Linked DNA regions of Homo sapiens. The protein of the gene in region 2 interacts with the protein of the main gene of each other region in a pairwise test. Each region holds a gene or a part of one and is shown on either strand. Other genes may lie near its edges. The genes, in order: CROT, CYCS and LRRC56.

Region 1 (3,751 bases), about 62 Mb from region 2:
AGAAAAAAATGACAGGTGTAAACTTCAGGGCATGCAAGCACAGGGCGACATGTGTCACTAGCGAGACACAGACAGCAAATAACAGCCGATTAAGAAACAGTAGGTACTGACAAATACAACTCTGAGACTCAAATAGGTTATCCAACTCTGGGTGGGGCCTCTAACCTCAACCTGGGGAATATGAGTATTCCTGTGTCTCCTGGGGCCTAGAAGGCTGAGTATATTGCAAAGTATATTGCAGAAAGGAAAAGGGACAACAAAGGGAATGGAAGAGACAACAAAGAGCACTCACCTATACATGAATCCAAAAACTTAGGAAGCAAGAAACCTAGAACTATTTGTCAGATGTTAGCATTTTATAGATAAAATCATTCCACAATTTTATTTTATTTTATTTTTCTGAGATGAGATCTCACTGTTACCCAGGCTGGAGTGCAGTGGTGTAGTCACAGGTCACTGCAGCCTTGACCTCCCCAGCTCAGGTGATCCTCCAACCTCAGCCTCCTGAGTAGCTGAGACTGCAGGCAGGTGCCACCATGCCCTGCTAATTTTTGTATCTTTTGTAGAGATGGGGTTTCACCATGTTGCCCAGGCTGCCAACATTTTAGAAACATGTTTCCCATATTATAAACATTTCTTAATTGGAAATGACTCAGATATCCAGTGAGTCATGCCAGGAAAGCCATAGACCAAAATTTTGGGTAAAGTAGTCTTCATGAAAGTTTGAGGGTTTTTTATTTTTGTTTTTGTTTGTTTGTTTTGCCTTTTCACATTTTGTTTTTCAGTTTCAAATGAGTTTCTAACATGTACATTTCTTTTACAGTTCTGGTTGAACTGTACAAGAAAAACAAAATCTCTAAGTAACCTAAACATCAAGTTTTATTTCAATACTAGTAGACTAATAATAACAGATTCAAATCAGGCAGAAAAGAAGAGAAAAATAGAGAGCTTTAGAAGACTCTGTTTAATTTCATAGTTGCAGGGCAAAAGTAACCACCAGAATGATAACAGGCTGAAGCTTCAGATAAGAGAATGAGACTCCAGGTTTCCACAGGGGGCAAGCAGATAAAGATTGCTGCCTGTTTTAACATGGGGTGTAAAAGCATCTGAGTCCTGCAATGTTTAAGATATAGCAAGAACAGGCTGGGCACAGTGGCTCACGTCTGTAATCCCAGTACTTTGGGAGGCCAAAGTGGGCAGATCACCTGAGGTCAGGATTCAAGACCAGCTTGGCCAAGATGGTGAAACCTTGTCTCTACTAAAAATACAAAAATTAGCTGGGCGTGGTGGTGGGCACCTGTAATTCTAGCTACTTGGGAGGCTGAGGCAGGAGAATCGCCTGAACCTGGGAGGCGGAGGTTGCTGTGAGCCAAGATTGCACCATTGCACTCCAGCCTGGGTGATAGAGCGAGACTCTGTCTCAAAATATATATATCAAGAACAAATCTTGTAAGTCCTCAGGTTCCCCATGCTATCCTGAGACATGACAAAGCAAACGAAAAGGTGACAGTCAGAAGGCAAGTGTGGAAAGTGAATGCAGTAAACCTCTGGGCTGGCCATAGGGGCCACTGTAAAGCTGCAGTAAAGCAAAGGCAACAAGTTGGGAAGTGATGAGAAGTATAGCTTTCCCATATCTGGCAAAGGGGACAAAGTGGATTAGTCCAAAGCATATACTGGCGTACATCTTGCAAGGCTACTTTAATTTTTATTATACCCCAGGGACTCTCACCCCATTGGGCTGGGACTCTAACCCAAATATTATACCCTAGAGACTCTAACCCCATTGGGCTAGAAATATTATCCTTGATAGGATGCCAAGACAGACCCCATTTATCAGAGGTGGCCAATTAGTGCTGTGCAGGCTGAATCTCCTCAGCATGGGATCTCATCCTAATGTCCCTTTGTAGTCACCAGAACATGCTACCAGATAAGGGGTCTTGATCCAGATGCTAAGAGAGGGTTCTTGGATCTCACGCGGGAAGGAATTCAAGGTGAGTTGCAGAGTGCAGTGAGAAGAGACAGCTTATTGAAAGCTACTCCATTGCGGAGTAGAGCGTCCTCAGAGGGCAAGCAAAGGAAGGCACCATCCTTATTTTAAGTTTTTCTTATATAGAGCCTTTATCTATGTAAAGACTAAACTAAGCTACGTCTACATGTGGGTGAGCAGACAACATGACACAATTTATTATTCTATTGATTTAAATAAAACTATCCTTGACATTTTAGTGTGTAAATACATCCAAACATAACTGTAATTATCTTGAAAACATATATTGTTATGGGTATTGGGATACCTGGACTTTCTGCTGTTTAGGAGTGTGTCCTTGTAGGTATCTGTAGGCTGTTCACTCAACTGTAAATATCTTCTTAATGTGGGTCATGACCAGCAAGGAATTGTGCCTTGTTAGTCTCCAGATGGAGCTGAAATTAAAACGGCATTACTCTGGCTCTCCTAAGCTCCTGCTTCCTTAACAACACTGTTAGAAGTTGAAGGTTTAATTGCTTCTTTATCTAGACTTGTAATAAAGTATAGGTGACTCTTGAACAATGCAGGGCTGGTGGTGCTGACCCATGTGTATTAGAAAATCCAAGTACAGGCCGTGCGCAGTGCCTCACGCCTGTAATCCTAGCACTTTGGGAGGCGGAGGCAGGTAGATCACGAGGTCAGGAGATCGAGACCATCCTGGCTAACACAGTGAAACCCCGTCTCTACTAAAAATACAAAAAAAAAAAAGAGCCAGGAGTGGTGGCGGGCGCCTGTATTCCCAGCTACTCGGGAGGCTGAGGCAGGAGAATGGTGTGAACCCAGGAGGCGGAGCTTGCAGTGAGCTGAGATTACGCCACTGCACTCCAGCCTGGGCGACAGAGCGAGACTCCATCTCAAAAAAAAAAAAAAAAAAAGAAAAGAAATTCAAGTACAACTTTATAACGTAAACAGTTGATTAACAGATAATTTTATGTTATATGTATTATTTTCTGAATTATTTAAGTTAGAGTAAAGCAAATGTTATTAAAAAATGATAAGGAAGAGAAAAATATATTTATTATCCATTAAGTGGAAGTAGATCATCATAAAAATCTTCATCCTGATGGTTTTCATGTTGAGTAGGTGGAGGAAGAGGAGGGACTGGTCTTGCTGTCTCAGAGGTGGTAGAGGAGGTGGAAGTAGGGACAGGAGAGGCAAGCACACTCATTATCAACTTTTATTAGGTATAAATGGACCTGTGCAGTTCAAACTCGTGTTGTTCGAGTCAACCATGTCCTTAAAATATCCAACTTTTTTTCTCTCTTTATGTTAATTTTTCCAGAGTTTGAAAAGCCAGATAGTGTAAATAGGCTTGTGATGAAAAATGCAGTCCTTTGCCCATCTCCCTGGCTCCCTCCCGACTTGCTAATCCCATTCTCTCAAGCAAGGATTTCCAAATCTTTTGTTTCTTTTCCGCCACTTTCATGTTGTCAACTCTTAATTTTATTGTTCTGCTCTGCTATTTAATACAGTACTGTGTTTTACATATCTGAGTCTTAAGATTTGCATAAGTTAGTAATAATAGAGGTGAGTTGGTGGTACTTGGTCTAAATACCTTAATACGTATTTTTCCTTTCTAGTGAAACCATTTGCAAATCAAGAAGAATATAAGAAAACTGAAGAAATAGTTCAAAAATTTCAAAGTGGGATTGGAGAAAAATTGCACCAGAAATTGCTTGAAAGAGCAAAAGGAAAAAGAAATTGGGTATTTGTTGTTATAATTGA
Region 2 (3,751 bases):
GAGTTCTAATAAGTCTGGCAGCAAACTTATCAGTGGAACTTTACAGGCCGGGAGGGAGTGGCATTACATATTTAAAGTGCTGAGGGAAAAAACTTTTATCCTAGAATAGTACATCCAGTGAAAATATCCTTCAGATGTGAGGGAGAAATAAAGACTTTCCCAGGCAAACAGAAGCTGAGGGATTTCATCAACACCAGACCTGTCCTACAAGAAATGCTAAAGGGAGTTCCTCAGTCTGAAAGAAAAGGACATTCGTAAGCAATAAGAAACCACCTGAAGGTACAAAACTCACTACTAATAGTAAGTACACAGAAAAACACACAATATTATAATACTGTAATTGTGTGTAAACTGTTCATATCTTGAGTAGAAAGACTTAGAGATTAACCTAACTTATCAAAAATAATAGCTATAACAACTTTTCAAGACATAGTATAATAATATATAAATAGAAACAAGAAAAAGTTTTAAAAGTGGGGAGAGTGAAGTTAAAGTGCAGAGTTTTTCTTAGTTTTCTCTTTGATTTTTGTTTATGCAATCAATGTTATGTTGTCATCAGTTTAAAACAATGGGTTATAAAATATTATTTGCCCTGGGCGTGGTGGCTCACACCTGTAATCCCAGCACTTTGGGAGGCCGATGCGGGTGAATCACCTGAGGTCAGGAGTTCGAGACCAGCCTGACCAAATAGTGAAACCCCATCTCTACTAAAAATACAAAAATTAGCTGGGCGTGGTGGTTTGCTCCCGTAGTCCCAGCTACTTGGGGGGCTGAGACATTAAATGGCGCCACTGAAGAAGAATGAATAAGGTCTAGTAATACAACAGGGTGACTACACTCAACAATAATTTATTGTACATTAAACAAACTAAAAGTATAATTGGATTGCTTGTAACAGAAAAAAAGGATAAATGCTTGAGGTGATGGATAGACCGTTTACCCTGATGTGATTATTATACATTGTATGCCTGTATCAAAATATCTCATGTACCTCTTAAGTATATATATATATTTACCTACTTCGTACTCATAAAAATTTTAAAAGGTACATAAATGTTATCATTGCATCCTCTTAATTTTATTTTTCAGTTCCAGAGGGATAATCCTGTCTCTGCCGCAAATGCAGCACCTTCCTCAGTCTTGGGGCGTCCATCAAGCGGAGAGCTGGAATGTGACTGAAAGTAACAGAGTATAGGTGGAACTAGAACAAGGTCACGAGCTGGTGCCCAACTCGTGTAACTCCTGGTTCCAGGCTGTCCCTCTAGGATGCTGTTGGCGCCAGCCGTGGTAGTAGGACAGAGTCTGGGTAAAGGTCGCCTGCTGACAAGATGGTAGCTAGGAGACCTCTAGGTGCGCCAAAATTAGGGCGTCTTTTCCTGGACCGGCAAAACGCCCTGCTCAAAGCTCATTACATCACCACGCCCAAGAACTGATACTTTAGCAGGGCAACGCACCAACCAAGCGACTCCGCCCCACCCTCCCCGCTCCTCCAGCACACGCAAGCGCACAGAGGCCCGCGAGTGACGTCACCTCTCCCGACACCACCTCGTTGTCGTACGACCAAAGGCCTGTCGTAACGGCCGGGAAAAGCCTCGAGAAGAAGGGCACGCACGCCGTACACCCTAACATGCTCGCCAGCATGCGCGCGCAGGTCCTTGGCGCAGGCATTGGGACTGGAGCCAATGAGGTGCGGCGACGTTACTGCGTAGCCGCCAGCTCGGCCGCACGTCAGGGCGCGGGAGCGCGGAGCGAGTTTGGTTGCACTTACACCGGTACTTAAGCGCGGACCGGCGTGTCCTTGGACTTAGAGAGTGGGGACGTCCGGCTTCGGAGCGGGAGTGTTCGTTGTGCCAGCGACTAAAAAGAGGTGAGAGCGGGTCGCGGAGGCCGCACCTGGTTAGAGGCAGAGCTGTGGGAGGCGCGCACTTGCGAGCGACCGAAACCCAAGCGGGGAGCATTCGAGTGGAGCCCGCGCTGGGTGGGAGGGCGGGGAGTGAAGACCCTGGACTGTGGTCAGACCGAGCTGGGCGAGTAACGGCTTGAGGTGCGGCGGAGCCCTAACTAGGGACAGGTATGGTCTCGGTCAGGGACTGGAGGCGGCTTGGATACAGATCCGAGGAGGAGGCGGCCTCTTCCGTAGTGGTTGCTGAAGGGCTATGGAAATGATAGGCAAGACTTCCCTCCTGGAAAGCCGAAGCTTAGAGCTTCACGTTCTTCTTCAGAGGGCAAAAGCTGTTGCTCTTCTAATAAGGGGCCAGTTCTTTTCGTGGGCACATGTTTCTTCCGTCAGTCGTTCTGACATCCTAGAAGGAGTTTCATCAATCACCTTGAAACCGACCTGGACGGGTGACCTCGTGGTCGCCCCAGGAGATCACAGGTAGGGGAGTTGGGATGTCCCCGGGGGACCGTGCAGCCTGCCCCTGAGCTCCCATTCACAAGTTCGAGTGTCAAGCTACTCCTGTGACCTGGGCAGATAGAAACAGCCAGGACCGCTTTTTAAACATTTGTGTGCTTTGCGTTATCCTCAGGGAGAGGTGGCTTTACATTGTAGTAAGATTAAATGGTTAGGTCTTTTTAAAAGTTGCGGTTGTGGTGATTTTGGCTTAATGTGTTCGCCCTTGAGCTTCAGATCTGTGACTTCGTGACCATGATTGTCTCTTCTGAAACTGGAGTTTGAATTAGGTTCCCTCTTTGCTTGGGCTTTAACGTTCCTTCACGTATACACACAAAAATACGTTTTTGAGGAGGTACTCCTAAAAATGTTTTTGGTATTAAAGAATATTTGGTATAAAGAGTATTAAAGCAAAACAAGATTCATTCTGGTATTTAATGACATAAATTAGCAATGGATTGGTAATTAAGTGGCTAGAGTGGTCATTCATTTACACTGTATTTGTTACCTGAGGAAAAATTTACTAAGTTGAAGCTTTCGTTTTTAGAATTAAATATGGGTGATGTTGAGAAAGGCAAGAAGATTTTTATTATGAAGTGTTCCCAGTGCCACACCGTTGAAAAGGGAGGCAAGCACAAGACTGGGCCAAATCTCCATGGTCTCTTTGGGCGGAAGACAGGTCAGGCCCCTGGATACTCTTACACAGCCGCCAATAAGAACAAAGGTAAGAGTCACTTGTTAAATAAAACAACACAAAATGCAGGAATATAACATGTGGCAAACTATCAGGAGTGTGAAATAACCGATGCATTCTTTCTTGTTTAGGCATCATCTGGGGAGAGGATACACTGATGGAGTATTTGGAGAATCCCAAGAAGTACATCCCTGGAACAAAAATGATCTTTGTCGGCATTAAGAAGAAGGAAGAAAGGGCAGACTTAATAGCTTATCTCAAAAAAGCTACTAATGAGTAATAATTGGCCACTGCCTTATTTATTACAAAACAGAAATGTCTCATGACTTTTTTATGTGTACCATCCTTTAATAGATCTCATACACCAGAATTCAGATCATGAATGACTGACAGAATATTTTGTTGGGCAGTCCTGATTTAAAACTAAGACTGGCTTGTGGTTAAATGAATATGTTCAGTTTTTGAATTTTAATAGTAACTCCAATTCAGTAAATGGTATCACTGTTTACCCCTTTTAAAGATATGATTAGACTTCGTTAGTAATGTTCAACTTTTCACAAAGATGGTGAGTGCCATCTTAAAACTTACTGGAGATTGGTTTTATATTTAGATTTATATAACTGGTTATGTGAATATATTTAAATACTGGGGAAATTGCTTCACTG
Region 3 (3,751 bases), on a different chromosome or scaffold from region 2:
TCCCTGCATGGACCCTGAGGATGGGCAGAAACACAGGGAGGGTGTCCTACGAAGCAGAGGGGGTCGAGCCAAGGCTGGGGGAGGGGAGCGTGAGGCCCTCCAGGCTGGAACTAAGCAGACAAGGGCCCCATGAGGCCCAGCCAAGCTAGGAGCCTTCTCTAGGCTCGGGGTGGGGGTGGGTGCCAAGGGCTTGCTGTGACGGGGGCGGGGGGTTGAGGGCTGGGCCAGGGTCTCAGCCGGGCTGCAGAGGAGGAGGAGCAACAGCGTGGAGCTTTGCACTGTGCCTCTGTCAGCAGGTGACATGTGAATGGATCTGGGCTGGGACAGATCCCGTGGGCCTCGGCGGAGCACCTCCAGCGTCCGGGTGCGGGAGCTGAGCTGGCAAGGCCTGCACAACCCCTGCCCACAGAGCAAGGGCCCTGGCAGTCAGAGGGACAGACTTGGAGAGCAGCTGGTGGAAGAGTACCTGTCCCCTGCCCGGCTGGTGAGTGTGGGCGCTGGGGGCTGTGGCCACAGAGGCCTCCGTGGGGTGACATCCCAGGGCTCCTTCCTGCTGATGGTCCAGCCTGCCCTCTGTCCCCCTCCTGCTGGTCTTGCCTGCTGATGGTTGGCCTCAGCCCAGCCCCTGCAGCTGGGTCTGCTCCACCCACTCTGCCCTTGGGACCCCTACCAGGCCCCAAAACACCAGCAACACCAGGTGCTCAGTGACACAGACGTCCCCAGGCATTTGGGTCACAGACAGGACTGAGCCAGGCCAGAACCCACAAGTAGGGGCTGAGCATCCATTATCCTCCAACCAAAGAGGGGGGTCCTTCACTCAAGCGGGAGACCAGATGGCTCAAAGCTCAGGGCAGGGCCCGGCGCGGTCCGGGCTCTGGGTGCCGGGTGTGGTGTGTCTGCCCTGGGAGTCTCTCTGGAGACGGGCAGCCCCCAGGGCAGGTCCTTCTCCCGCAATGACCCCCCAGCCAAGTGCAGCACAAGCTCTGCTCCTGTCACATCCACTCCCATCCCACCACCCAGGCCAGGGCCAACATGGCCCAGGCAGGGAAACGTCGGTGCCTGCTCCAGCGGGAGCCCCAGAGTCCTGTAGCCAGAAGCAAGGATGGAACTAAAGTGGGGAGAGCCAGGACCAGCGCTGACCCCCGGTTGGTTTCTACAGCAGGCCCTGGCCCGGGTGGATGACCTTCGGCTGGTGAGGACGCTGGAGATGTGTGTGGACACTCGTGAGGGCAGCCTGGGGAACTTTGGTGAGCCTCTTCCCACCCCGCCATGGCCACGGCCACGGCCACGCCTCCCTGTAAACAACACACGTTTCCTGGTTATGACGACAAAGCTGTCCTCACCTCTCGGGCCGCGTATCGGCTTCCTTAGGGTTGGCCTCTGACCTGAGGTCTGTGTCAGGTACAGGCAGAGGGCAATGCACTCAGCACCCCGCACACCACACCAGTACCCCCAGCACGCTCAGTACCCCACACACCCACACCAGTACCCCCAGCACGCTCAGTACCCCACACACCCACGCCAGTACCCCCGGCACGCTCAGTACCCCACACACCCACGCCAGTACCCCCGGCACGCTCAGTACCCCACACACCCACGCCAGTACCCCCGGCACGCTCAGTACCCCACACACCCACGCCAGTACCCCCGGCACGCTCAGTACCCCACACACCCACGCCAGTACCCCCGGCACGCTCAGTACCCCACACACCCACGCCAGTACCCCCGGCACGCTCAGTACCCCACACACCCACGCCAGTACCCCCGGCACGCTCAGTGCCCCACACACCCACGCCAGTACCCCCGGCACGCTCAGTGCCCCACACACCCACGCCAGTACCCCCGGCACGCTCAGTGCCCCACACACCCACGCCAGCATCACAGAGGAACAAAGGCCAAAATGGTGCTGAGTGCCACTTGGTGTCTCCTGAAACTCATCTTGAAATAATCTCAGCCAGGCACAGGGGCCACGCCTGTAATCCCAGCACCGTGGGAGTCCAAGGTGGATGGATCACTTGAGCCCAGGAGTTTGAGATCAGCTTGGGCAACATAGCAAGACCCCTGTGTCTAAAAATAAAAAATTAGACAGGCATGATGGCACCTGTAGTCACAGCTACTCATAGGAGGTGGGGAGGTCAAGCTGCAGTGAGCTGAGATTGCACCGCTGCACTCCAGACTGGGCGACAGAGCAAAACCCTGTCGCAAAAAAAAAAAAAAAAAAAAAAAACACTCCCTCCCCGCCCTCCGCCAGGTTCCTTCTCTTTCGCCGTGTTCACGGTGGTGCTGGCCCCTGCTCCCTCCCGTGCGTGCACAGCGCGTCAGGCCACTGTTCTTTTTCCTGAACTAGTTGAGAGTTGGACATGCAACACCCCTTTATCTACTGACACTTCAGTGTGTATTTCCTGAGAGGGAGGACATTCCCTTAAATGCAGTGCGATGGCCAAAGTCAGGAATTACACCTGTACATGACTCTTAGCCATGCTGAAGACCATATTCAAATGTCACCAGCTGTCCCAACAGTGACTTTTTTTTTTTTGAGATGGAGTCTCATTCTGTCGCCCAGGCTGGAGTGCAGTGGCGCAATCTCAGCTCACTGCAACCTCTGCCTCCCAGGTTGAATTTTCCTACCTCAGCCTCCCGAGTAGCTGAGATTACAGGCACTCACCACCACGCCCAGCTGATTTCTGTATTTTTAGTAGAGACGGGGTTTCACCATGTTGGCCAGGCTGGTCTTGAACTCCTGACCTCAAGTGATCCACCCACCTCAGCCTCCCAAAGTGCTGGGATTACAGGATTACAGGGATGAGCCACCGCGCCTGGCCTGTTTTTTGTTTTTTTCATTGTTGTTTTTTTTAAGACAGAGTCTCTCTCTTGTTGCCCAGGCTGGAGTGCAGTGGTGCAATCTTGGCTCACTGCAACCTCAGCCTCTTGAATTCAAGCAATTCTCCTGCCTCAGCCTCCTGAGTAGCTGGGATTACAGGTGTGTGCCACCACGCCCGAGTAATTTTTGTATTTTTAGTACAGATGGGGTGTCACCATGTTGGCCAGGCTGGTCTTGAACTCCTGACCTCAGGTGATCCACCCGCCTCGGCCTCCCAAAGTGCTGAGATTATAGGTGTGAGCCACCACGCCAGGCCCCACAGTGACCTTTAGAGCAGGGAAGCGTCTTCCCACCCAGGATCACTGGCTGTCTGCATTTCTCCAACTGACTGAGGTGAACCAGGCCCATCTTGATTGGTCTTGTATTGTTTTGCAATGGCCTGTGAAGTCCCTGACCATTGTGTGTGGCTAACCCGCAGCCATCTGCACTCACTCGAGCCCTTCCCACAGGCATGGTCTTGGAGCGCCTGTACCCACACACTCTGCGCCCCTTCTTTTATTTTTTTTTTGAGACGGAGTCTCGCTCTGTCACCCAGGCTGGAGTGCAGTGGCGCAATCTCGGCTCACTGCAAGCTCCACCTCCCGGGTTCACGCCATTCTCCTGCCTCAGCCTCCCGTGTAGCTGGGACTACAGGCGCCCGCCACCATACCCGGCTAATTTTTTGTATTTTTAGTAGAGACGGGGTTTCACCGTGTTAACCAGGATGGTCTCGATCTACTGACCTAGTGATCCACCCACCTCAGCCTCCCAAAGTGCTGGGATTACAGGCGTGAGCCACCGCACCCAGCCACTCTGCAACCCTTCTCACAATGCAGGGATTCTGTCTGCCTCACAGGGGCATATGCCCCATCCTACAAAAGACTCCGAACG

What was found.
Region 1: the proteins of CYCS (region 2) and CROT interact in binary tests that used the Homo sapiens proteins (3 or more experiments, as listed by UniProt).
Region 3: the proteins of CYCS (region 2) and LRRC56 interact in binary tests that used the Homo sapiens proteins (3 or more experiments, as listed by UniProt).

Annotation. Positions count from the first base shown.
Region 1 is NC_000007.14:87,355,600-87,359,350, forward strand, and holds part of CROT (peroxisomal carnitine O-octanoyltransferase), read left to right. Parts: intron 1-1,907; coding exon of another isoform or gene 1,908-1,991; intron 1,992-3,606; coding exon 3,607-3,731; coding exon of another isoform or gene 3,732-3,751. UniProt on the Homo sapiens protein: Beta-oxidation of fatty acids. The highest activity concerns the C6 to C10 chain length substrate. Converts the end product of pristanic acid beta oxidation, 4,8-dimethylnonanoyl-CoA, to its corresponding carnitine ester.
Region 2 is NC_000007.14:25,123,316-25,127,066, reverse strand, and holds the start of CYCS (cytochrome c), read left to right. Parts: upstream 1-1,806; 5' UTR 1,807-1,867; intron 1,868-2,939; 5' UTR 2,940-2,947; coding exon 2,948-3,116; intron 3,117-3,217; coding exon 3,218-3,366; 3' UTR 3,367-3,751. UniProt on the Homo sapiens protein: Electron carrier protein. The oxidized form of the cytochrome c heme group can accept an electron from the heme group of the cytochrome c1 subunit of cytochrome reductase.
Region 3 is NC_000011.10:540,378-544,128, forward strand, and holds part of LRRC56 (leucine-rich repeat-containing protein 56), read left to right. Parts: intron 1-293; exon of another isoform or gene 294-296; 5' UTR 297-307; coding exon 308-484; intron 485-1,159; coding exon 1,160-1,247; intron 1,248-3,751. UniProt on the Homo sapiens protein: Required for the assembly of dynein arms.